Regions from separate parts of the Homo sapiens genome. Here regions 2 and 3 are each linked to region 1. The links come from fine-mapping of genetic effects on gene expression. A gene starts in region 1. Each other region holds a variant in brackets. All regions are shown on one strand. Distances are from middle to middle. Region 1 holds the start of ZNF606-AS1 (ZNF606 antisense RNA 1). Region 2 has its middle 110 kb from the start of USP29. Region 3 holds the start of ZNF418 (zinc finger protein 418).

Evidence for each region. PIP is the estimated chance that this variant, and not a neighbour inherited with it, causes the effect.
Region 2: its variant is fine-mapped to the expression of ZNF606-AS1 in pancreas (GTEx, PIP 0.99). The same link has a PIP of 0.9 or more in unexposed skin.
Region 3: its variant is fine-mapped to the expression of ZNF606-AS1 in esophagus mucosa (GTEx, PIP above 0.99). The same link has a PIP of 0.9 or more in aorta and tibial nerve.

Annotation. Positions count from the first base shown.
Region 1 is chr19:57,999,633-58,007,812 of GRCh38, forward strand. It overlaps ZNF606-AS1 (ZNF606 antisense RNA 1), which reads left to right and starts at 3,262. Exons shown (of 4, transcript NR_036508.1): 1 at 3,262-3,414; 2 at 3,579-3,704; 3 at 4,751-5,068; 4 at 6,275-7,574. ZNF606 (zinc finger protein 606) reads right to left here and starts at 3,188. Exons shown (of 7, transcript NM_001348022.3): 1 at 2,764-3,188; 2 at 1,657-1,738; 3 at 1,051-1,107; 4 at 176-264. The coding sequence starts at 1,687. RefSeq lists an enhancer at 3,120-3,539.
Region 2 is chr19:57,003,467-57,011,646 of GRCh38, forward strand. No RefSeq gene overlaps it. Among named protein-coding and RNA genes, the nearest start is that of USP29, 110 kb to the right of the region's middle. The variant T/C (reference allele first, on the strand shown) is at 5,112.
Region 3 is chr19:57,934,330-57,942,509 of GRCh38, forward strand. It overlaps ZNF418 (zinc finger protein 418), which reads right to left and starts at 1,073. Exons shown (of 6, transcript NM_133460.3): 1 at 832-1,073. It overlaps ZNF256 (zinc finger protein 256), which reads right to left. Exons shown (of 3, transcript NM_005773.3): 3 at 6,504-8,180. The coding sequence ends at 6,595. RefSeq lists enhancers at 476-1,358, 951-1,040. The variant T/C (reference allele first, on the strand shown) is at 4,818.

The sequences.
Region 1 (8,180 bases):
TCCGAATCACTAAAAACGGCCTAATTCTCCCTACCTGCTCTCAGGAAGGATTAACTTCCAGTTGCTTCCTTCCCTACCCAAACTCCAACTGTTGTAAACTGGAGAGCCGCATCAACTGGGATGACCAGGGATAACCTGGACATCATCCTCTGGGAACAGGACAGCCCCATCTCACCTGAACCTGGGCTGCTGGGAGCCCAGTGGCCCTCCTCCCCTCCTCCAGGCTTCCCTCCACGTGCCAGGCAGGATACTGAGGACACAGAGCTAGGAAACGAGAAAAAAGTCATGGAGGCAGCTCTCGCTGCCAGGAGCTCACCTTTTCTTCTGGGGGGCTGAGAACCAGCCCCTGCCCCTCCCCCTTGAATGAGGAAAGAGACCCACTTCCTCATTCTATAGATGAAGGAATTAGGGCTCAGAGAAGGTTAGGAAAGTACCTAAACACATGAATCTCTCATTGGCCCCCCCTGTGCTATTGGGTACCATCTCTGAGAAGCAGTGTCTGGTCACAACCTTCCTGGGCCTGAACCCTAAACGGCCACACATGAATTCTCATGCATCTTGAGATGTCACCATCACCTTACTGCTCACTGGTTTTCTTTTTTTTTTTGAGACTGAGTCTCGCTCTGTCGCCCAGGCTGGAGTGCAGTGGCACGATCTTGGCTCACTGCACGCTCCGCCTCCTGGCTTCACGCCATTCTCCTGCCTCAGCCTCCCGAGCAGCTGGGACTACAGGCGCCCACCACCACGCCCAGCTAATTTTTTGTATTTTGTTTTAGTAGAGACGGGGTTTCACCGTGTTAGCCAGGATGGTCTCGATCTCCTGACCTCGTGATCCACTCGCCTCGGCCTCCCAAAGTGCTGTAGGCGTGAGTCACCACGCCTGGCCACTAGTTTTCTGATTCCTCCTTGTTCCAGCTCTGCACAGAGACAGATCTGGACCACCTGCCCTAAAGCCCCACCTGGTCCCCATTCTATTCCCCAGCTGTGGCAGAGCACTACAGCCAGAGGCCACAATATGGCAGCCCACAGCTGACCAGGCTCTTGACTCACCCCAGGAGGCCCATGGGTCAACAGCTGTCATCCCCCAAGATTGGTCCGTAAGGGCACCTGCACAGAAGGATCAGGTTAGGACTGTGACACCAAACCTAGTGATTCAAGGCGACAAAATACAAGAGGAGGCTGACTCGCTAATGGGCACTACAAAATTCCATAAACAGAGCCCAAGGGTGTGTAAAAAAAATGCAACATAAGCTGGATTCACACAGGCAATGCACAGGTGAGTCACTATTAATTAACACCGTTTTAAAATTACCAACCAATGCTATATAAGTAAAAACAATAAAGGTAAAAATATATATGAGAGCAGTAGAGACAATATTTTATTATATGTATCACTGTTGTTTAGGAAACCCCACAAACCACCAGAAAAATCCCTTAAAACTAATGACACCTCTCAGGAGATGACTATAAAACATAAAAGTTAGTGTCTTTTATGCCAACAATTTTCCTCCTTTACCACCAATCAGTTCTAATTTTGTACCAAGATAGACAGACCCCCTTCCATCCTCAAAAGTCCTCAGCCCATCACCAGCTCTGACCCATGACTGCAGCAGCTAATGATAGGGGAGGCCCAGGAGAAACACAACTTGGACTCACCCCAGGAGGCCCACGGGTTGATGGCTGCCATCCCGAGGACTGATTGACCAGGCACCTGCCCAGGAACACAGCAAATCCCAACCTAGTGACAAAAGTGAAAAAAGACAAAACTAGTCCTTTCTCACAGAAGACCAAGTGGGAACAAAGAAGGGAATCCATCCACCGAAGCAACAAAAAAACTTGTAAGGAGCATCGTAAGAAAAGAGAATTTACATGTCAAAAAAGTAACACAATTCCTGGAGAGAAATGAAAGGTAATTTGCATAAGCTGGAAAAAAGAGCATGATCCTGAATGAGAGGGTACAAATTTGTCAGCTATTCCCAAGAGACAGCCAGTCACAACACAGATGGAACTTTTGGATTAATCTGACAATTATTGTAAAATCAACTTGCAATCCTCATATATTAGTGGTTGCCTAGAGCTGGGGGAAAAATGAAATGGGGAGTGACTGCTTAAGGGGAACAAGGGTTTCTTTGTGGGGTGATGAAATGTTCTAAAATTAGATAATGGGGATGATTGCACAACTTTATTAATATACAATAAAACCGGTGAATTGCACACTTTTAAGTGCTTAAAGTGAACATTATGTTATGCAAATTTAATCCCACCTCCAAAAAAAATTCACCTCCAAGATTTACTAAGCCTAAGCTTGTGTGTGTGTGGAGGACTTAGAGATGGGCCTGGCGCCCAGACCCCTAACTCCTCAGGTTCCAGATCTTTGTACAAGTCAGCAACCTCTCGAATGGATTCCTGGGTATGTGTATAAAGCACTAGAACACACAGTGGGCCTCAGGAGCACCGGAATCAGCGCGAAAACGCAGAATGCAAACCGTACTTTGCACCATTATTTGCAACTTGACAGTGACCGCCGCCGTCACTGCATGTTTAAGGGAACCCGGAGCTGTTTCCAACCCAGGTCTGACGTCCTTCACAGTGCTTTGTGTGAACTGGCAGGGGGAGAAACGACGGCTGGGGAACGAACGGGGTTATTCGTCCCATCAATGGCCTCAGAAGCATCCTTATCACCTGCTTCCAGAGCTCCCGACCCAAATTTCCTCCTCAAGACCGACGCGGCCGCGACGCTGCAAAAGCTCGTCCCGGCCTCACCTGGCTCGCGGCCGGCGGTCCCCCTTGAAGGCGGCGCAGCAGGATCGGGGTCTGCCCGCCTGGGGCGTTTGGCTTTTGTCCCGCGCCGAGGTCCGGCCCAGGAGTGCGCTTGGGAGCTCCCGGCGCGGCCTCGGGGACAAAGGCCCGCGGAGCCGACGTGCAGCAGAGTTCACCCAGGCCCGTCCGACCAGAAAACGAAGAACGCCCGGAGGCGGGAGGCCGGAGGCAGGCTGCTGGCTGGAGAACCGACGGCAACGACGGCGCAAAGCCGGCGCGGAAAGGGCAGGCGCAGGACCCACCCTGACGCCGCCTCTCCCAGCCGGCTCTCCTGACCCCCCAAGCCCCGCAGCTACGGCGGCCCCACAGCCTGAGCAAAGGCCTCACCTCAGCCGCGGACAATGGCGGCTGCTTCCCCGGCGTCGACCGGAGCGCGCCGCGGGGTCTGCTGGGAGCTGTAGTTCCAGGCGGGCACTTCCGGCGTCGGGCAGCGGCGCCGCCATGACAGGTTCCTGGGCCGCGCCGCCTCGCCCTGCCTGGGCGGGGTTGGGACCTTTCTGGCACCTGCGTCGAAGCCGGCGGCAGGATGGACTTTGTTGTCCCGGTCCCAGACCACCCTCCTCCACCGTCGCCTCCCACTGCAAAAAGGCCTGGGTAAGTCGCGGCCCCGCGGGCCTCGGTTTGCCCATCCGCAAAATGGCGCCTCGTGGTACCGGGTTTCCCGGGAGGAGCTCGGCGAGTTCTCAGCGCTCTCGAGGGATCCTTCCATTTGGCGTTCGCAAGATTGTGAGAAAGTGACTGCTGTTATTCTCTTTAAGATAAGGAACCTAATTCGAGCTACCCTTCTCTGTGAAGCTCGACGGCTGAGAACGTCAGGGCTCGTTCCCAAGTCTCTTTCCAGAGGCCAGGCTTTATGGGAGCATGGGTTACCAGCGACGCACCCTGTGAGTTTTCCTCTATCGATATGCATGGAGCGGTTCGGGAGCGGTGGCTCATTCCTGTAGTCCCAGCACTTCGGGAAGCTGTGGCGGGAGGATCAGTTGAGTTCAGGAGTTCGACACCACCCTGGGCAACATAGCGAGACCACATCTCTACAAAAAAAATACAAAAATTAGCCCGGTGTGATGGCGCGCGCCTGTAGTCCCCGCTACTTAGGAGGTTGCGGTGGAAGGATTGCTTGAGCCTGGGAGGTCAAGGTTGCAGTGAGCTATGATCGCACCACTGCACTTCAGCCTGGGCAACAGAGCAAGACCCGGCATTAAAACAAACAAAAACGGGCCGGGCGCGGTGGCTCACAGCTGTAATCCCAGCACTTTGGGAGGCCAAGGCAGGTGGATCGCCTGAGGTCAGGAGTTCCGAGACCAGTCTGGGCAACATGATAAAACCTCGTCTCTACTAAAAATACCAAAAATTAGCCGGGCTTGGTGGAGGGCACCTGTACCCAGCTACTTGGGAGGCTGAGGCAGGAGAATCGCTTGAACCCGGGAAGCGGAGGCTACAGTAAGCCGAGATCAAGCCATTGCACTCCAGCCTGGGCAGCAGGGCAAGACTCTGTCTCAAAAAAAGGGACTGAGGGACTGTAGGTGGTGATACCAAAGAAAGCATGGCCATTTAGGAAGCTAGACTTGAGTGAGCAGTGGGCAAGAGAGATTTTGAAGATATTTCCACTAGTAATGGAGGATCATTTTAAAAAGCTGGCCTGTGGGTTGGGCTTTTGTTGTTGGGTGGTGTTGGCACTCACTGTGGGTGGGCAAAGGGGAGTAGCCCTTTCAGAGGGAGAGGAAAAGTTCAAGTAGGACAGGCTGAATTCAAGGGAGAGGAAAATTTCAAGTAGGACAGGCTGAATTCGAGGGAGAGGACCATGAGAGAGGTAAGGTGGAAGGGGCAAGGTGTTGGGACAGGCCCCAGCTGGCAGGAAGGTGAACCCAGTCAGAGTGGGCACTGAGAGGAAAGCAATCTATGGATGGTACAGCCACAATTTCCATCTCAGGATCAAGCAGAGAAAGAGAGGCTGGAGAAGGAAGAGTGACAGAAGTAAGAAGAGAGTGTCTCTCCACTTCCACTCCAGCCCCCTACAGCTCATCCTCCAGCAGGCAGCCAAGGGCACTTTTAGGATCTCACATCAGGTCCTTGCCTCACATTCTGCACTGGCTTCCCAAGTAATTAAAGTAAAATCCAAATTCCAGCTCACAGCTTAGAAAACTCAGCAGGACTGGCCTCTGTCCTATCCCACACCCCACCTCAGTCCCTCAAGCTCATCTCCTGTCATTCCTGCCCATTTCTGGACCCCAGCCACTCCTCAAACAGGGTAAGTCCATTCCTGCTTCAGGGCCTTTGTACGTATTGTTTCCTCTTCCTGGAATCTTCTTCCTTGTACAGCCCCAGGGTTTTCTTTTTTTCATCCAGATCACAGCACAGATGTCACATCCTGGTAACAGCCAGCTGTGACTCATCTCCCTAATTCTCAATTGTATTACTCTCTTTTTATTTTCTTCGTATCGTAACTGATAGTCTCATACAGTACAGAAGCCAAGTTTTAAGATATGCAATCACCAAATACCTGCTACACAAACCTCAATGTTCATATAAAATAAGACTAGAATTCATATTCTAAAGAGAGATGAGGTAGCTCTGTTCACTTTTGAGAGGGAACTCAAATGAGAGAGATACCTTTGACCTAAAGGTGTCAGGAAACCAGATGAAGAAAAACACCCCTGCTATGATTTGAATGTTTTTATCCTCTCCAAAATTCATGTTGAAACTTACTCCCCAGTGCAGTAGTGTTGGGAGGCAGGGTCTAATGGGATTTATGGAGGTCATAAGGCTCTGCTGTCATGAATGGATTAATGTTGTAAACCAAAAAATAAAATTCTAAGCCCCCCACCCCCCAACCATATGAATAGACCCCTCCTCTCAGCCAAGGGCATTCCAAAGTTAATTTGAAAAATGAGTTCGGGCCATGATGGGAAGCAGAAGCTGGACTTGCCTCATTATACCCTCCTCCCTTCTAGAATTAGTGATAGAACAGACTCTTTAAGTCTGATAAGAAACATTTACAGTCTGTTATCTCCGGAGGTTTCATCTGCTTGGTAAAACCTTGAGTTCCACAACCCCAGACATTCCTTTCTATTGACAATAACTCTTTAAATCAATTGGCAATCAGAAATCTTTAAATCTGCCTATAACCTGGAAACTTTCTGTACCAGTATACATCTTATATGTATTGATTGATGTCTCATGTCTCCCTAAGATGTATAAAAGCAAGCTGAACCCTAACCACCCTGGGCATGTCCTCAGGATCTCCTGAGAGCTGCGTCAGGGGCCACTGGTCACCATATTTGGCTCAGAGTAAATCTCTTCAAATATTTTACAGAGTTTGACTCTTCGTCAACAATGCCATTGTAAAAGGTTCATGGAGAGATTCTGCATGTGCTTGCATTCTCTTTCTCTCTCTCTCTTTCTTTCTCTCCCCCCACCCCCACCCTCCACCACCCTGCCCTTTACCTTCTGTCAGGTGAGGATGCAGTGTCCAAGGCACCATCTTGAACTCATCATCGCCAAATATGTGAGCACCTTGATGTTGGACTTCCCAACCTCCAGACCGTAAGGCAGTACATTTCTTTGTAAATTACGCAGTCTCAGCTATTCTGTTACAGCAGCACAAATGGACTAAGACAACCCCCGAGATAGGAAGGGGTAAGGTAAATGCAATGAGAGTTGGGGTTTTCGATCTTAGTCCAGTAAAGGAGCTGGAACTGTTCTGTATAAACAAAGGGCAAGGTAATTGCTACATAGATTCTTTTCTTATTATTGCTGATTCTTATCCTAAAATAAAGGACATTGCCACTACACATCCTCTAGAATGACCAAAAATAAAAATACAGCATCAAATGGGACGACATGGTGCCAACTGGAATTCTCATACCCTGCTGATGGGAGTATAATGTGGTACAGTCACTTTGGAAAAAAGTTTGACAATTTCTTATAAAATTATACATAAACCTGTACTATGACCTAGAGATTCTACTCCTGTTTGTTCAAAAGAAAGGCAAACATCTGTCCACTAAAAGATATGTACAAGAATGCTCACAGTGGCATTATTTATGACGGTCCAAACCAGGAGATAATCCAAATGTCTGTAACCAAGAGAATGGATAAAGAAATTTTGATACGTCAATTTAATGGATTACTACTTAGCAATAAAAATAATTAGCCATGCTGGGCGCGGTGGCTTATGCCTGTAATCCCAGCACTTTGGGAGGCTGAGGCAGGTGGATCACCTGAGGTTGGGAGTTCAAGACCAGCCTGACCAACATGGAGAACCCCCGTCTCTACTAAAATACAAAATTAGCCGGGGTGGTGGCGCATGCCTGTAATCCCAGCTACTCGGGAGGCTGAGGCAGGAGAATCACTTGAACCCGGGAGGTGGAGGTTGCATTGAGCCGAGATTGCGCCATTGCACTCCAGCATGGGCAAAAAGAGCAAAACTCCGTCTCAAAAAAATAAATAAATAATAATTAGCCACATATCCACACAACAATATTGCATTATCACAGGTATAGTGATAAATACTGTATGATTCCATTTATATGAAGTTCAAGAACAGGCAAGTAATCCATGATGAAAGAAGTACTTACCTCTGGGGGTGGCAGCATTGACTAAAGAGGTACAAGGGAGTCTTCTGGGGCCTGGAAATGTTCTATATCTTGATCTGGGTGGTGGTTACACAGGTATACGCGTGTTAAGAAATCATCAGGCTGTATACTTAGTGTACTGTAATGGCATTACACTGTCTTTCAATTAAAATGTGAAAGAAAAAACGGGGGTGTCTTTTGCTTCCACATTTGTAGCCCCAGCTTCTGTATCTCCTGCGTGATAATGGTTGGATGAATTAAAAGGTAGGAGGAATAGAAGAGGAGAAAAGCAATAGGAAGAGGAAGGCTGGAAGAAAAGCCCAGCTCCACTGTCTCACTTGGGTGTCACTGGGTACTGGGGAATTTGGAAGCACTAGGGAACAGAGAGGAAGGTGCTCCCTTAGGCTTCCACTTCTCAGCCCAGTAGTGAGAGGCTATGAAGCTGTTGCCCCCTGGTGGGGGACAAGTGAGACCAGTGAGAGAGGGTTTTTGCCTTAGAATTGCCCCTTCCCTGGAGACAGCAGCAAGATGAAGGCCTCTCAAGAAGTGCTTCATCCTCTGGAAACCAGCGGAGGAAATGACTTTCCCAAGAGAAGGATCATACATCACTCAATCATCAGCAAACATTTATGAAGCACCTGCTCTGTGCCAGACCCTAAAGTGAAAAAAAACAAACACTGCACTTACGGAAGCACGAGATAAACAATAAACATAAGTAAATTAAAGAGTAGTTAGAAGGCAACAACTTTGGAAGAAAGAAAAAAGAGTAGGTGATGTAGTGCCCAG
Region 2 (8,180 bases), 1.0 Mb before region 1:
TGGAAAAAGGAAATGAATCCGTGCGTGTGGAAACGCTTGGGATAGTGGCAACACATGCTCCTTATGACATCGTGTCAGAGAGGTGTTTGCACATCAAGCTTACCCAAATCTTCACTCCTGTTTTCAGCAGAGCTGCCCAAACCTCAAGACGGTCCTTCCTTCCCCTCCTCCTCTTGCAGCCCCTGCATTCCATCCCTGACTCTTCCGCGAGCTGCAGCAGGAAGGATTCAGGCCATACACATGAAGGAGCAAGGCTACCCCTGGGGCCAAGGCCACCCCTCGCCCACCCCCGTCTCTCCCACCCCGGGTAGCCGTCACTGCCGCAGAGCAGGGGGAACGTGTCCCAGGTCACTGCACCCTCTGCTGTGTAGGGACTGGGGTCATTTCTGACCGAACATCTTACTCTAGGGCCTGAGATTCAGTGTCGTGGGGGACTGAGTCTGAATCCTTCCCGGGCAGGGCTCACCAGCAGAATTCAGATGGAAACTGTAGAGTGCTGTCAGCAGGGGTGTGCTGGAGCCAGCTTCTACTGGAGGACAGGAACCAACGCGTCAACTCGCAGGAAGTTTGTGAGATGTTTAAGCACATCGTTTAGTAAACAGGACACTCCATGCACTTTCAAAATTAAATAAATGACGTAAGCCGGGCACGGTGGCTCACGCCTGTAATCCCAGCACTTTGGGAGGCTGAGGTGGGCGGATCACCTGAGGTCGGGAGTTCGAGACCAGCCTGACCAAAATGGAGAAACCCCCGTCTCTACTAAAAAATACAAAAATTAGCTGGGCGTGGTGGCGCATGTTTGTAATCCCAGCTACTCGGGAGGCTGAGGTAGGAAGATCGCTTGAACCTGGGAGGCGGAGGTTGCGGTGAGCCGAGATTGCACCATTGCACTCCAGCCTGGGCAACAAGAGCGAAACTCCGTCTCAAAAAAAAAAAAAAAAAAAAAAAAGACGTAAAGAACAAAGGTAGGAAACACCCTAAACATACGCTTTCCTAGTTATTTAAATACATTTTACTAGCGTCTGTGTTTGGGGGTGATTGACATCCATTGTGTCTGCAGTAGATGTGGGGGCTGCTGACCTCCTCCCACCTCCATGCCCAGCGAGCAGGCCGGCTCCTGCAGCTGCCCATGCTGGGGAGGCATTTGCACCATGGAAGCTGGCAAACACCACCGGGCACGCCACCCCGGCCTCCAGAGTTGGCTGTCCAGCATTCACCAGCTCCCCACTGGCTGCAGGAATCCAATTCTTTACTCTTTCGGGTGTAAGTGCTTATTTAGGAAGCCCTCCGGTAGGCTGGTCTGTGCTCCACGCATCGGGGTACAACGGTGAGCAGAACTGCAAAGAGCCTGTCTTTCTGCATCTTCCATTTTGTGAGAATGAAAAGAAAATAAACATAAAACTCAACCCAGGAAGAAGATAATTTCAGAAGATTCTAAGTGCAAGAAAGAAACAGAGTGAGGTGATACTAACGGGCAAATGTTACTTTCTTTTTTTTATTATTATACTTTAAGTTCTAGGGTACATGTGCACAACGTGCAGGTTTGTTACATATATATACATGTGCCATGTTGGTGTGCTGCACCCATTAACTCGTCATTTACATTAGGTATATCTCCTAATGCTATCCCTCCCCCCCTCCCCCCACAACAGGCCCCAGGGTGTGATGTTCCCCTTCCTGTGTCCAAGTGTTCTCATTGTTCAATTCCCACCTATGAGTGAGAACATGCGTTGTTTGGTTTTTTGTCCTTGCAATAGTTTGCTGAGAATGATGGTTTCCAGCTTCATCCACGTCCCTACAAAGGACATAAATTCATCATTTTTTATAGCTGCATAGTATTCCATGGTGTATATGTGCCACATTTTCTTAATCCAGTCTATCATTGTTGGACATTTGGGTTGGTTCCAAGTCTTTGCTATTGTGAATAGTGCCACAATAAACATACATTTGCATGTGTCTTTATAGCAGCATGATTTATAATCCTTTGGGTATATACCCAGTAATGGGATGGCTGGGTCAAATGGTATTTCTAGTTCTGGATCCCTGAGGAATTGCCACACTGACTTCCACAATGGTTGAACTAGTTTACAGTCCCACCAACAGTGTAAAAGTGTTCCTATTTCTCCACATCCTCTCCAGCACCTGTTGTTTCCTGACTTTTTAATGATCGCCATTCTAACTGGTGTGAGATGGTGTCTCATTGTGGTTTTGATTTGCATTTCTCTGATGGCCAGTGATGATGAGCATTTTTTCATGTGTCTTTTGGCTGCATAAATGTCTTCTTTTGAGAAGTGTCTGTTCATATCCTTCACCCACTTTTTGATGGGGTGGTTTTTTTTTCTTGTAAATTTGTTTGAGTTCTTTGTAGATTCTGGATATTAGCCCTTTGTCAATAGGAAGAATCAATAACGTGAAAATGGCCATACTGCGCAAATATTACTTTCAAAAGGAGGTCAGGAAGACTTCCTGGAGGAGGCGAATGCACGGTAGCACTCACTCCCAAAGGGTCGGAAGTACCCAGTAATGGGAAGATCTGGGGAAGAAGTTGTGGGCAGGTGCAAAGTCAGGAAGAAGCCTGAGGTGCCCAGACAACACAGCGGCACATAATGAGTGGTGGGGAGAGAGATAGGAGGGGAGGCTGCTAGGTGCTCAGCAGAGGCTGCGTTACAGATGGACCCTGAAGATGGGGGTGAGGAGACTTGATGGCTTGATACTGTTTGATAGCACTGACAGCTATTGGAGGGTGATGACTCAGGAACTTCCCTCACCAATAAGCGTTTCTTAAAAAAAATTACTCTGACTCTACAAATATATATGTATATATAATTTAACCACATTTTACTAGCATCTATGTTTGGGGGTTACTGACATCTCTCTATCTATCTATTTATCTATATATTTGGAGGATCAGAGTAATTTTTAAAAGAAGTGTCTATATATAATGTATGTAGAAATAATATATAAATAAATACCTATATAAAGTAATTATATATTTTTATATTTTTATTTATATATTTCACTTAAAATATACATTTTTAAATATATATGTTTTGTTTTGTTTGAGAGAGTCTTGCTCTGTCACCTTGGCTGGAGTGCAGTGGCACCATCTCGGCTCACTGCAACCTCCGCCTCTCAGGTTCAAGAGATTTTCCTGCCTCAGCCTACCAAGTAGCTGGGATTACAGGCACCTGCCACCATGCCCAGCTATTTTTTTTTTTTTTTTTTTTTTGTATTTTAGTAGAGGCAGGGTTTCACCATGTTGGCCAGGCTGTTCTCGAACTCCTGACCTCAGGTGATCCACCCACCTCAGCTTCCCAAAGTGCTGGGATTACAGGTGTAAGCCGCTGCACCCAGCTGAACCCACCTTTGGAACTTAGTGAGTGTCTCGCCCTAAGTGCCTGTCAGCTGGGGCACTTCCTCTGTGCCCTACAAATGTTCCTCAAACTGAAATTCTTTAGAACAATGCAGGAAGAATCCCATGCAATGGCATAAAGCACTGTAAACTATTTCACTTTTATTACTCCGGAAATTTATATTGCTTTTTATTTTCCGTAACCTGAAGATATATGTGCTAGTTCCTTGGGGCTGGGACATTAAGATAAGTTGTGTGGTCCTTCCTTCCAACACAGCTACCACCCTGGGCTCCTCCTCTGGGCACACTGTGGGCGCCTGCTGCTCGCAAACTGTGATAAGGAAGGAGCTGTTTTTTCTAAGATCACTGGGATCCATTAAGGGCTCCGCAGGAGAAAGACAGAACTTCTCTTTAGGATGATGAAAGATGAGGGTGTCACAGGTGGTGACTCAAACAACAATTGAGAGGCAAAGGGGTCTGAACCCATCTGCAAATAAATATCATTTGAATGAATGAACGAGTGTATCCAGGGGTGAAGCGGGAACAGAAGTCATGGTGAACCACTGACAGGAGGACCGTGGTGGGAACCCTTCCTGCGCTATGAAGGCAGAGTTGAGGTGCTGTAGCCTAGACTGTAGGGAATCCCTTTTGCCACATCAGGTGACACCCACTGGTTCTAGATACTAAGATGTGGATATCACTGGGGGACCATCATTCAGCCCACCACAGATGGATGAGTAGAGAGGTTAATGGATGGAAGGATGGTAGGTGAAAGGATGGATAGTAGAGTAGATGGATGAATAGTAAGGTGGATGATTGGATGGAAGAGTGAATGGATAGATGGGTATACAGATTGATGGGTGGTGGGTGGATGATTCCTGTGATCCCTGCCTCGCTTCTCAGCTAAGCTACTCTGATGTCCATCACTCTGACCTGTCCCCCGACAGACACTCTCACTTGGTACAGACCTCAGAAGCAGGCTCTGGTGGTCACCATGGAAATGCGATTGGATGAGGAAGGTAAGTTGCTGAGGAGTGGGCAGAGAGACTCTCAGATGCTGGAAATTTCCAGACTCTGGAGTGAAATTAAGGTGTGTAAAAGGGACTATAGGGGAGGGGCAAGAGTGAGACCACGGAGGAGGATGTTGCAATCGTCCAGGAATCATGGTGGTGGAGGTCACTAAGGTTGTGCAGCAGACACTGAAAGAAAAAGAAAATGGCTCCTGACAAAGGAGGGGGAAATAGCAGGAACAGATAGGAAAGGCATTTCTGACTGGAGACCTTATACACACTACAAAACCACAAACATACCTTTAAATACTGGGCACAGTGTCTCACACCTCCAATCCCTGCACTTTAGGAGGCCAGGGAAGGAGGATCGCTTGAAGCAGGAGTTTGATACCAGCCTAGACTACAAAGTGAGATCCCATTTCTACAAAAATAAAAATTAGCTGGGCTCAGCCGAGTGGGGTGGCACATGCCTGTAGTCCCAGCTACTCAGGAGGCTGAGGCGGGAGGCTCGCTTGAGCCTAGGAGTTGGGGGCTGCAATGAGCTATGATTTTGCCACTGCACTCCAGCCTGGGCAACAGAGTGAGGCCCTGTCTCAAAAATACACACACACACGCACACACACACACACACACACTTAAAAAACAAAAGGTTGAAAATGAAACACATAGTGAAATAAAAGTTCTGATAGTATCTTCCCAATTGCTCCACCTCACTTTAGAGTCAGGTGAGGGAGGATGGTGGCGGAGGC[T/C]GCAACACAGTGGCTGAGACATCGCTCTCAGCGTGTCACCGTGAGGTCTCCCAGGGAGGGTGTGGAGAAAACAGTGCCCAGGACAGAGCCTGAGAAACCTCACCGGGAAGATGGAGCATAACAAGGAAAGCATTACTCAACCATTCTGTGTCACTGAAGTGTGTACACAATTAGCCCATCTGTTGCTCACCCTCCTCATTCACCAACCCCTATTCCAAGAAATTTAAATGCCCAAAATAGGACTTCCCACCAGTGGGAGGTGTTGGCAGCCAACACAGAGGAGCAGCTCCAGAATCCAGGGAGTTTGTTTGAAATAAAACTGACCTATAACAAAGAGAGACAAGTATCTCTTCAATCCCTACCATCCCTCCACCTACCCACCCATCCATCCACCCATCCATGTATCCACACTTCCATCTAATGCACACAACTATCCAACTGTCCATCCATTCAGCCACCCATGCAACAACCCACCTAATGCATTAATTCTGTCATTCTTCCAATTATCACCACCCACCCATCACTTCATACACCCATCCACCCACCACCCATCCATCCACATACCCCCATCCATCCATGCTTCCATCCAATCATGCACCCTACACCTGTCCCCCCACCCATCACTTCATACACCCATCCACCCACCACCCATCCATCCACATATCCCCATCCATCCACCCACCACCCATCCATCCACATACCCCCATCCATTCACCCTTCCATCCAATCATCCACCCTACACCTATCCATCCACCCACCACCCATCCATCCACATACCCCCATCCATTCACCCTTCCATCCAATCATCCACCCTACACCTATCCATCCACCCATCATTCCATACATCCATCTACCTACCCATCAATCTGTATACACATCTATCCATTCACCCTTCCATCCAATCATCCACCCTATACCTATCCACCCACCCATCATTCCATACAGCCATCCACCCACCACCCATCAATCTGTATACACATCTATCCATTCACTCTTCCATACAATCATCCACCTTACTATTAATCCATCTACTCTACTATCCATACTTCCACCCACCATCCTTCCATCCATTAACCTATCTACTCATCCATCTGTGGTGAGCTGAATGATGACCCCCCACGTCTTAGTTTCCAGAATCTGTGAGTGTCACCTGATGTGGCAAAAGGGATTCCCCGCAGTCTAGGTTACAGCAACTCAACTCTGCCTTTATAGCACAAAAGTGGTCCTAGACAAAACACAAATGATGGATGTGTCTATGTTCCAGCACAACTGTATTGTACAAAAGCAGGCAGGCCATAGTTTGGCAATCAGCCATCTTGTTCTGAATGATCAGGCCCCTACTTCACTTTCCGACAAATCTCTATCCACTTTTTCCCTTGCTCTCTCCACCGTAGCCACACTGGCTTCCTCGATGGTCCTCAGGCTGGGCAGTCATCAGCCTCATGGCTTTTCAAGACATACATTCTTCTGTCTGGACTGTTTTTCTTCTTGATATTCCCATAATTGTTCCCTCCCTCCATTGAGATTCAAATATCACCACCTCCAAGAAGGCATCCTTGACTCCCAATCTAAAACACCCCACCCCTGCTCTTTGAATCTGACTTATTGTTCCTGATAACACTCGCCACCACCTGAAATCTTACCTATGTTCCCATGTATCACCCCTGCTAGAATACTCATGTCCCAGCATGTGAATACATCTGTTGCGTTCTCTGCTGCACCCACCACGCTTGGCCAGGGTATACCACTAAGTATGCGCCCAGTAAATACCAGCTGAAAGACAGGATGGATGGATGCGTAAATGAGGGCATGAACAGCTGTCTGTCCTAAGAGTCCCCGGCTCCTTTTTTCACATTATTTCACTCTCCGTGTCTAAAGCAGTGTCTGGAGGGATGGGGGGGCTCGATGAATATGTCTGACTGAATAAGGACGTGAAATGCTGCTGCTTAGAAGATATTTGGGATTTCTGTCCACATCCACAGTGGCCCCTGAAGCCATTTTTCTACGTTTTGCGGAGACGCTGCTGCTGCTGACGCATTTCGATGTGTGCAAAATACGCACATGAACAGCCGATACGGACACTTTTGATGTCCGTCCCTCTGCCCTGTTCCCTGCTCACTCGGTGCTCCCAACCTTCTAGCGAATGGTGCAGGAGCTCAGGTTGTTGCCATGGAAACCCCAGCTGGAATGGGGGAGGCAAGTGCGTGGGGAAGGTGTCGAGAGATCCGCAGAGGATGGAATTTTCCAGACTCTGCAGTAAGATGTGAGCTCCACATTGAAGGCCTGGACCAATCGTCTGGCCTCACCCACATCTCTACTGACCTCAGGACTCTCTGTGTCCGTAGCCCCTTTGGGTCTCCTCATACTCTTTGGCAGTCTGGAGTTCCGGGTCTATTTCTCCTGTGAGTCCTTTAGAAAGGCTGTCTGCTCCTTGCATCTCTCTCTTGCTCTCTCGCTCTCTCTCTTCCCTCTCTCTTTCCTCTCTCCTCTTCTTCTTCTTCTTCTTCCTCCTCCTCCTCCTCCTCCTCCTCCTCCTCCTCCTCCTCCTCCTCCTCCTCCTCTTCTTCTTCTTCTTCTTCTTCTTCTTCTTCTTCTTCTTCTTCTTCTTCTTCTTCTTCTTCTTCTTCTTCTTCTTCTTCTTCTTCTTCTCGATCTCAGCTCACTGCAACCTTCACCTCCCAGGTTCAAGCAATTCTCCTGCCTCGGCCTCCCGAGTAGCTGGGATTACAGGCGCCCACCACCATGCCTAGCTAACTTCTTTGTATTTTTAGTAGAGATGGGGTTTCACCATATTGGCCAGGCTGCTCTCGAACTCCTGACCTCAGGTAATCCACCCAAAGTGCACCCTCGCCCTCCCAAAGTGCTGGGATTACAGGTGTGAGCCACTGCGCCTGGCCCTCCTTTCTTCTTTCTCTCTCTCTTTTCCTCCTCTCTCTCCTCTCTCTCTCTTTCTGTTCTCTTGCCTCTCTCTCTCTCTTTCCTCTCCCCTCTTCTTTCTCTCTCTCTTCCCTCCTCTCTCCTCTCTCTCTTTCTCTTCTCTTCTCTCTCTCTCTCTCTTATTCCCCTCTC
Region 3 (8,180 bases), 65 kb before region 1:
TTAGCCTCTGAGTAGCTGGGATTACAGTCATGCGGCATCACCACGCCTGGCTAATTTTGTATTTTTGTTAGAGACGGGGTTTCTCCATGTTGGTCAGGCTGGTCTCGAACTCCCGACCTCAGGTGATCCGCCCGCCTCGGCCTCCCAAAGTGCTGGGATTACAGGTGGGAGCCACCTTGCCCGACCCCCTCAGTGGGTTCTTTACGTGCTTTTGTAGCCAGGAGTGTCTGAGGGGAAAGCAGACGTTACAAAGGGGATCTGATAAGCTCAGGTCTCCTTGAACCTTTTCTTATCGCTGGAGCCAGGTGACCTCAGACTGGTTGACCTGCGTGTCTCAGTGCAAAATGTCATCTCTACCACCTATGTGATCTATCAACAAAGGAGTCAACCTCCCAGAACCCTAAGGTCCTCATCTCCTCTACTATGTTCTTCCTTTGGCCTTTGGGAAACCTTAAAAGCCTGGACTTGGATCGCATCCCTCCTTTCTTCGAAACTCTCCATGGCTTCTAGCGTCTTCACAGCGAATACACAGCCCCCAGCCTGCTCTTCCAGGAGAAGCTTCGCCTCACACGTTGTTCCCTACAGGCGCCTGTGGACCCCAGGTTCCATCCTCCCGGGTCTGTCCTCCAGGCCATAGCCCGCGCCGGTCCCTGTGCCTGTCGCTCTCCCCACCGCATCCCACAGGTGTCAGAAACAAGGACCTCTCCCGCGAACGCCTCAGTGTCCCGACGCCGGGTCCGGGCTGCAGACCTGTGAACAGTCGCCGCTCTCTCGCTGCTTCAGGATTCGGGTTAGGATGAGGTGACCTGAGGGCAGGGAAGGCACAATTACCTGAGCCGGGAGCCTCAGCGCGGCCGCCGCCATCCCGAGTACGCGGGGAAAGCACTGCCGGGAGCGGCGGGCGCCGTTACGGGGCCTAAGATCTGCCTCTGTGCAGCAAGAAGGACTCTTCACCTTCTGGGTTCAGACACCGCGGTTCGGACCCATAGCTCCAGCGCCTCTCACCTCACAAACCGCAGAAACACACCCAACATTAACCAAAATGGTCGCTACCAGAGAACGCTGAGAATCCCGCCACTACGTTACGTGCGCACACAGAAACGCCTTTATTCTGAGCCCTTACTGGTTCTGTTGCGCTGTCATTCAATGTAGAGCTTTCTGGGTAATGTAGTTCCCCAGGTTCCAAGGTAGTAAAGCTGCCGCTTCCCAAAGGCGCTTCTGCAGGGAAGTCCCAGCCCTACCTCAGGGGGTTCATTAAAGCGCGTACCCTTTTAGGGCAGAGGATGGTCTCGCCCCTCCTTAGAGGCCATATTGAGATTCCTGGGGAATCCCTGTTTGTAACTGACCACCTAAGTGTTTGCAAAAATATTAATTCACATTTCTGTAAATTCAAGCTCCCAGGCGCTAAAAATACTGTGAAGGCCCCCAAAGGCTACAAATCCAAATTCGTGTATCACTTTATACAATCGTTTAGACACAGAATGCTTGCACTGGAAGCAGAGGCTGATAAACATTACTCTGTTATAATTCACATGAATGCACTCTTGTTACCGGATAGAATGTCTTGGCTGTGAGTTGTCCAGTTGTTGGCGCATTGAACAAAGAAGTGAACAAAACACACAAAAAAAGCAACGAAAGAACGGACCAATGAAAGCGCAGATTTATTGAGGGGAAAGTACACTCCACAGAAGTGGAATGTAGGTGTGGGAGCAGGCGACCAAGCGGCTCAAGAACCCCGATTACAATGTTTTTTAGGGTTTTATTAGGTTGGTGCAAAAGTAATTGCGGTTTTTGCCATGAATAAGCTAGAATTTTATAATACCCCAAGAGTTCTTTAAAGGCCTCCAATCCTATGAAGGACTGGTGCACAACCAATCAGAGGCTGAAGTGGAGACTTCTGTCTTGTTACCACAGGAGTGAGGACGTGGCCTGTGTGCTGCCTCATCTTGCCTAGAACTAGCTGCACCTGCTGTTCTTTTGCTTATGCCTTCATTCTTGGTTACCCTAATTCCCTATTCTCCTGCCTCACTCTGAGGCATTAGAGTTGGTTTTTCAGTCTGCCAGGGACAAAAGAGAACTAATCCAGATAGGACCATGCCAAGGAAGATAGAGGAGAGGCTAAAGAAAGAGTACAAAGGTCAATCAGTCGTTCCCATGGAAAAACAACTCTCCTGCTTATATAGTCAATTATTGTGTCCAATTCATTCAGCAAAACATTTATTCATGTAATATCCCTTACTTGGTATTCTAACTTATATTTTCAACTCATTTTAGGAACTTGAAGTCAGTCTCAGGTAAAGAACAATGAAAGAGAAATCTCAGCTTGGTATTGGTAATGGTGGTGATAATCTCCACCTGGAGACACTAGGCGTATGTTAAATTATCGAGCTTGTTATCTTTCCTGGGAAGTGATTATCATTTGTTTCTCTTGTGACAGCGGGGAGTGTTCTGCATGAGGAACTAATATGATACCAGAAAAACAGGTGAAATGCCAGTTACAGAAACTTATTACCAACGACTATCTAATAACTGCGATGACAGAAATAGGTCAATTGAAACATGAGTGGATGGTGAAAAAAATTTACACTTCACAGAAGTTTTTCTTTCTTTTTTTTTTTTTTTTTTTTTGAGACAAAGTCTCGTTCTGTCCCAGACTGGAGTGCAGTGGCGCCATCTTGGCTCACTGCAACCTCCACCTCCCGGGTTCAAGCGATTCTCCTGCCTCAGTCTCCCAAGTAGCTGGGATAACAGATGCCTGCCACCACGCCCAGCTAATTTTTGTATTTTTAGTAGAGACAAGGTTTCACCATGTTGGCCAGACTGGTCTCAAACTCTTGACCTCTGACCTGCCTGCCTCCTTCTCCCACAATGCTGACATTACAGGCATAAGTCACTGCTCCCAGCTGACTTTACAGGTGTTTGTTTGTTTGTTTGTTTGTTTTGAGAAGGAGTTTCACTCTTGTTGTCCAGGCTGGAGTACAATGGCACAGTTTCAGCTCACTGCAACCTCCTCCTCCTGGGTCAAGCAATTCATTCTCCTGCCTCAGCCTCCCAAGTAGCTGGGATTACAGGTGCCTGCCACCACACTCAGCTAATTTTTGTATTTTCAGTAGACACAAGGTTTCACCATTTTGGCCAGGCTGGCCGCAAACTCCTCACCTCAGGTGATCCACCCGAGGTGGCCTCCCAAAGTGCTGGGACTACAGGTGTGAGCCACCTCGCCCGGCCCAGAAGTTTTAACAGTGATGTCTACGAAGAGATGGAATTAAGGTCAGCATGTGATTAAAAATGTCCCCCTTGTTGGTTTTGTCATTGAGATTTTTTTTTCTTTATTAAAAACATTGAACAATACCAAGGTGGAGAAAAATTGTGCCTGTTCACCTACCTACTTGGGAGGCTTAGAGGGAGGATCACTTCTGCAAAGGAGTTTGAGGCCAGCCTGGGCAGCAGAGCAAGACTCTGTCTCCAAATAAATAATTTAATGAATAAGTAAAAACAGAAGGTGAAATCTGCAGTATAGTATTATCCTCATAGAATTGTGTCTCCCTTTCTTCATTATTCTGTGTGTCAATTATGTTACAAGTTTTTCATCTTATAGGAAAAAAGTCATAGATTCTATACACATCTGTACTTTTTCTCACTTAGCAATATGGTTTGAACAATGAAAAGCTTCTTTTTCACTTCACATTTGAAATCTGCTTATCTCCACATTCTATTTTTTTCTCCCCTTTTTGAGACAGCGTCTCACTCTGTTGCCAAGGCTGAAGCGCAGTGGCATGATCAAGGCTCAACTGCAGTCTCAACCTCTCAGGCTCAAGTGATCCTCCCATCTCAGCATTCAGGAGTAATTGGGACTATAGGCATGCACCACCACAACCAGCTAATTTTTGAGAGATGTGGTTTTGCCATGTTGCCCAGGCTGGTATCAAACTCCTGAGTTCAAGCAATCCTCCTGCCTCGGCCTCCCTAAGTGCTGGCATTATAGGATTCGGCCACTACACCTGGCCTATTCATCTTTTTCTGATGTAGAACCCACTCAGTGACAGTGTAATCAAGAATCAAGAAAGAGGCCAGATGCAGTGGCCATGCCTGCAATCCCAGCACTTTGGGAGCCTAAGGTGGGCAGATCACTTGAGGTCAGGAGTTTGAGACCAGCCTAGCCAACATGGCAAAAACCCGTCTCTACTAAAAATACAAAAATTAGGTGGGTGTGGTGGCGCACATCTGTAATCCCAGCTACTCGGGAGGCTGAGGCAGGAGAATTGCTTGAACCCGGGAGGCAGAGGTTGCAGTGAGCTGAAATCGTGCCACTGCACTCCAGCGTGGACAACAGAGCAACTCCGTCTCAAAAAAAAATAGAGCCAGAATACAATACACAAGCAACTGAAGTATTTCAACAGCAAAGAAACCCTCAAACAATCCAATTTAAAAATGTCAAACGATCTGAATAGGCATTTTTCAAAAGACAACATACAAACGGTCAAAAATATATTAAAACACACTCATCACTATCTGGGAAATGCAAATCAAAACCGCAATGAGGTATCACTCTCCCCGTTTAGGATAATTATTATCAAAAAGACAAAAACAGACGCTGGCAAGGATGCAGAGAAAAGGGAACTAATGGCCAGGTGCGGTGGCTCACATCTGTAATCCCAGCACTTTGGGAGGCCGAGCTGGGTGGATCACGAGGTCAGGAGTTCGAGACTGCCTGACCAACGTGGTGAAACCCTGTCTCTACTAAAAATGCAAAAATTAGCCAGGCGTGGTGGTGCGTGCCTATAATCCCAGCTACTCAGGAGACTGAGGCAGGAGAA[T/C]AGCTTGAACCCGGGAGACGGAGGTTGCAGTGAGCCAAGATCATGCCACTGCACTCCAGCCTGGGCGACAGAGAAAGACTCCATCTCAAAAAAAAAAAAAAACCCAACAAAATACAAGAAAAGGGAACTCATGCACTGGTGGTGCAAATGCAAACCAGTACAGCCATTATGGAGAACAGTATTGAGGTCCCTCTAAAAACTACAAATATGCCAGGCGCGATGGCTCACGCCTGTAATCCCAGCACTTTGGGAGGCTGAGGCAGGCGGATCACGAGGTCAGGAGTTCGAGAACACCCTAACCAACATGGTGAAACCCCGTCTCTTCTAAAAATACAAAAATTAGCAGGGGTGGTGGCACGCACCTGTAATCCCAGCTACTCAGGAGGCTGAGGCAGGAGAATTGCTTGAACCTGGGAGGCGGAGGTTGCAGTGAGCCAAGATCACACCACTGCACTCCAGCCTGGATAACAGAGTGAGACTCTGTCTCAAAAAACAAAACAAAACAAAACAAAAAACTACAAACACAACTACCATATCATCCAGCAATCCCCCTACTGGGAATTTATCCAAAGGAAAGAAAATCATCACATTGGAGACACATCTACACCCCGTTTACTGCAGCACTATTCACAATAGCCAAAATATGGAATCAACCTAGATGTCCAACAACAGATAAATGGATAAAGAAAATGTGGTTTATACACACAAAGGAATACTATTCAAAGAACAGAATGAAATCCTATCACCTGAGGCAACATGGATGGAAATGGAGGACATTATTTAAGTGAAATAAGCCAGGAACATAAACATGCACATTCCCACTCATATGTGGAAGCTTTAAAAAAAAAAAAAAAAAGCTGGGTGCGGTGGCTCACGCCTGTAATCCCAGCACTTTGGGAGGCTGAGGCGGGTGGATCACCTGAGGTCGGGAGTTCAAGACTAGCCTGACCAACATGGAGAAACCCTGTCTCTACTAAAAATACAAAATTAGCCGGGGTGGTGGTGCATGCCTGTAATCCCAGCTACTCAGGAGGCTGAGGCAGGAGAATCGCTTGAACCCAGGAGGCAGAGGCTGCGGTGAGCCAAGATCATGCCACTGCACTCCAGCCTGGGCAAAAAGAGTGAAACTCCATCTCAAAAAAAAAAAAAAAAAAAAAAAAAAAAAAAGCCTGGGAGACAAAGCAAGACTGTCCCCCACCCCCACAAAAAAAAGTTGATCTCTTAGAAGTAAAAAGTAGAACAGAGGATACTAGAGGCTGGGAAGGGTAGTGGGTAGGCAGGAATAGACAAAGATTGGTTACAAGCTACAAAATTACAACTAGACAGGAGGAATAAGTTCTAGTGTTCTATACCACTACAGGAGAACTAAAGTTAATAATATATAATTTCAAGTTGTTAGGAGAATGGCAATTGAGACTGACTGTTCCCAATATAAAGGAATGACGAATGTTTGAGGTGATGGATATGCTAATTACTCTGATCACTCTAAGTTATAGGTATCAAAACATCACTATGTACTCCAGGAACATGTACAATTATAATTTGTCCATTTAAACACAAAGAATTTTTTTAAAAAAAGAAACCATTTGGTTTTCTGTGTGGATATGAGACAAAGTAGTATGTACACATATAAACTTATTTGTATAAAACAAAATTCAGAGAACATATACTAAATATAAAACATGGTTATTGAAAATACGTATTTATTTATTTATGTCTGTGAATTTTGCAGGGACACTTCTCAGTCCGTAACAGCCCTATGTGTGTTACCTAACCTTTATCCCTTGTGAACGTTCTGATGTTTTAGGAGGTTGGAGTTGAAGGTAAAAAATTTTCCACAGTCACTACACTCATAAGGCCTTTCCCCACTGTGAATTCGCTGGTGATTAGTGAGGTTAGAGCTCTGGCTAAAGGATTTTCCACATTCACTGCATTCATAAGGCCTTTCTCCGGTATGAACTCTTCGGTGTTTAACGAGGCTAGAGTGGTTACTAAAGGATTTCCAACACTCACTGCACTCATAAGGCCTTTCTCCGGTGTGACTTCTCCTATGTCTAATGAGGCTGGAGCTCTGGCTAAAAAACTTCCCACATTCATTGCACTCATAAGGCCTTTCTCCAGTGTGAACTCTCTGGTGTTGAAGGAGCGTAGAGCTATGAGTAAATGATTTCCCACACTCCCCACATTCATAAGGCCTTGCTCCAGTATGAACTTTCCAGTGTGAGATGAGGTAGGATTTACAGGTAAAGGATTTTCCACATTCACTGCACTCATATGGCCTTTCTCCTGTGTGAACTCTCTCATGTACAATGAGGTCAAATTTCCTGCTAAATAATTTTCCACATTCATGACATTCATGAGATCTTACTCCAGTATGAACTCTCTGGTGTTGGAAGAAACGAGATCTATAAGTAAACAATTTCCCACATTCACTACACTCATAAGGCCCTTCTCCAATGTGAAGTCTCCGGTGTTTAATGAGGTGACAGCTCTGGCTAAAGGATTTCCCACATTCACTGCACATATAAGGCCTTGTACCAGTGTGAACTCTCTGGTGTGTAATAAGGCTAGAACTATGGATAAAAGATTTCCCACATTCACTGCACTCATAAGGCCTCATTCCAGTATGAATTCTCTGGTGTGTAATGAGGCTAGAGCTATGGCTAAAGGATTTCCCACATTCACTGCACTTGTAAGGCCTTTCTCCAGTATGAACTCTCTGATGTATAAGAAGGTCATACTTCCTGTTAAATAATTTTCCACATTCATCACATTGATGAGGTCTTACTCCAGTGTGAATTCTTCGGTGCGTAATAAGGCTAGAGCTTTGCCTATAGGATTTCCCACATTCTCCACATGTATAAGGCTTTTCTGAAGTGTGAACTCTCAAATGATCACTGAGGCTACAGCTTGTGCTAAAAGATTTCCCACATTCACTGCACATGTAAGATCTTTCCCTAATGAGGTCTCCCTGGTGCTGAACACGTACATGTTTGTAGCTGAAAGCTTTCACACATTCTCCCCAGTTGTAATGATTTTTTACACTGTGAAAGGCCACTGCACTCTTGGTTCTGTTTGACTTCTTTCTGGTGTGAGCAGCCTGTTGCTGAAGAAATCTTGATCTCACCAGGAAATCCTTCCCAACCTCCTTGCAAGTGAAGGGCTTCCCAGATACTTCAAATGTGCAGCTGCTCAAAAACATGTCTCTGCCCCCATTGCTTCTGAAGTGTTTCTGTCCAACATGCTGCTTCTGGTGCTGATGAAGGTATGCAGTAAATTGTAATTGTTTCCTACATGCCCCGTCTGTATACAGTTTCTGACCATGGTGTGTTCCTTGGTGTTCAACCAAGTGCAAAATCTGTC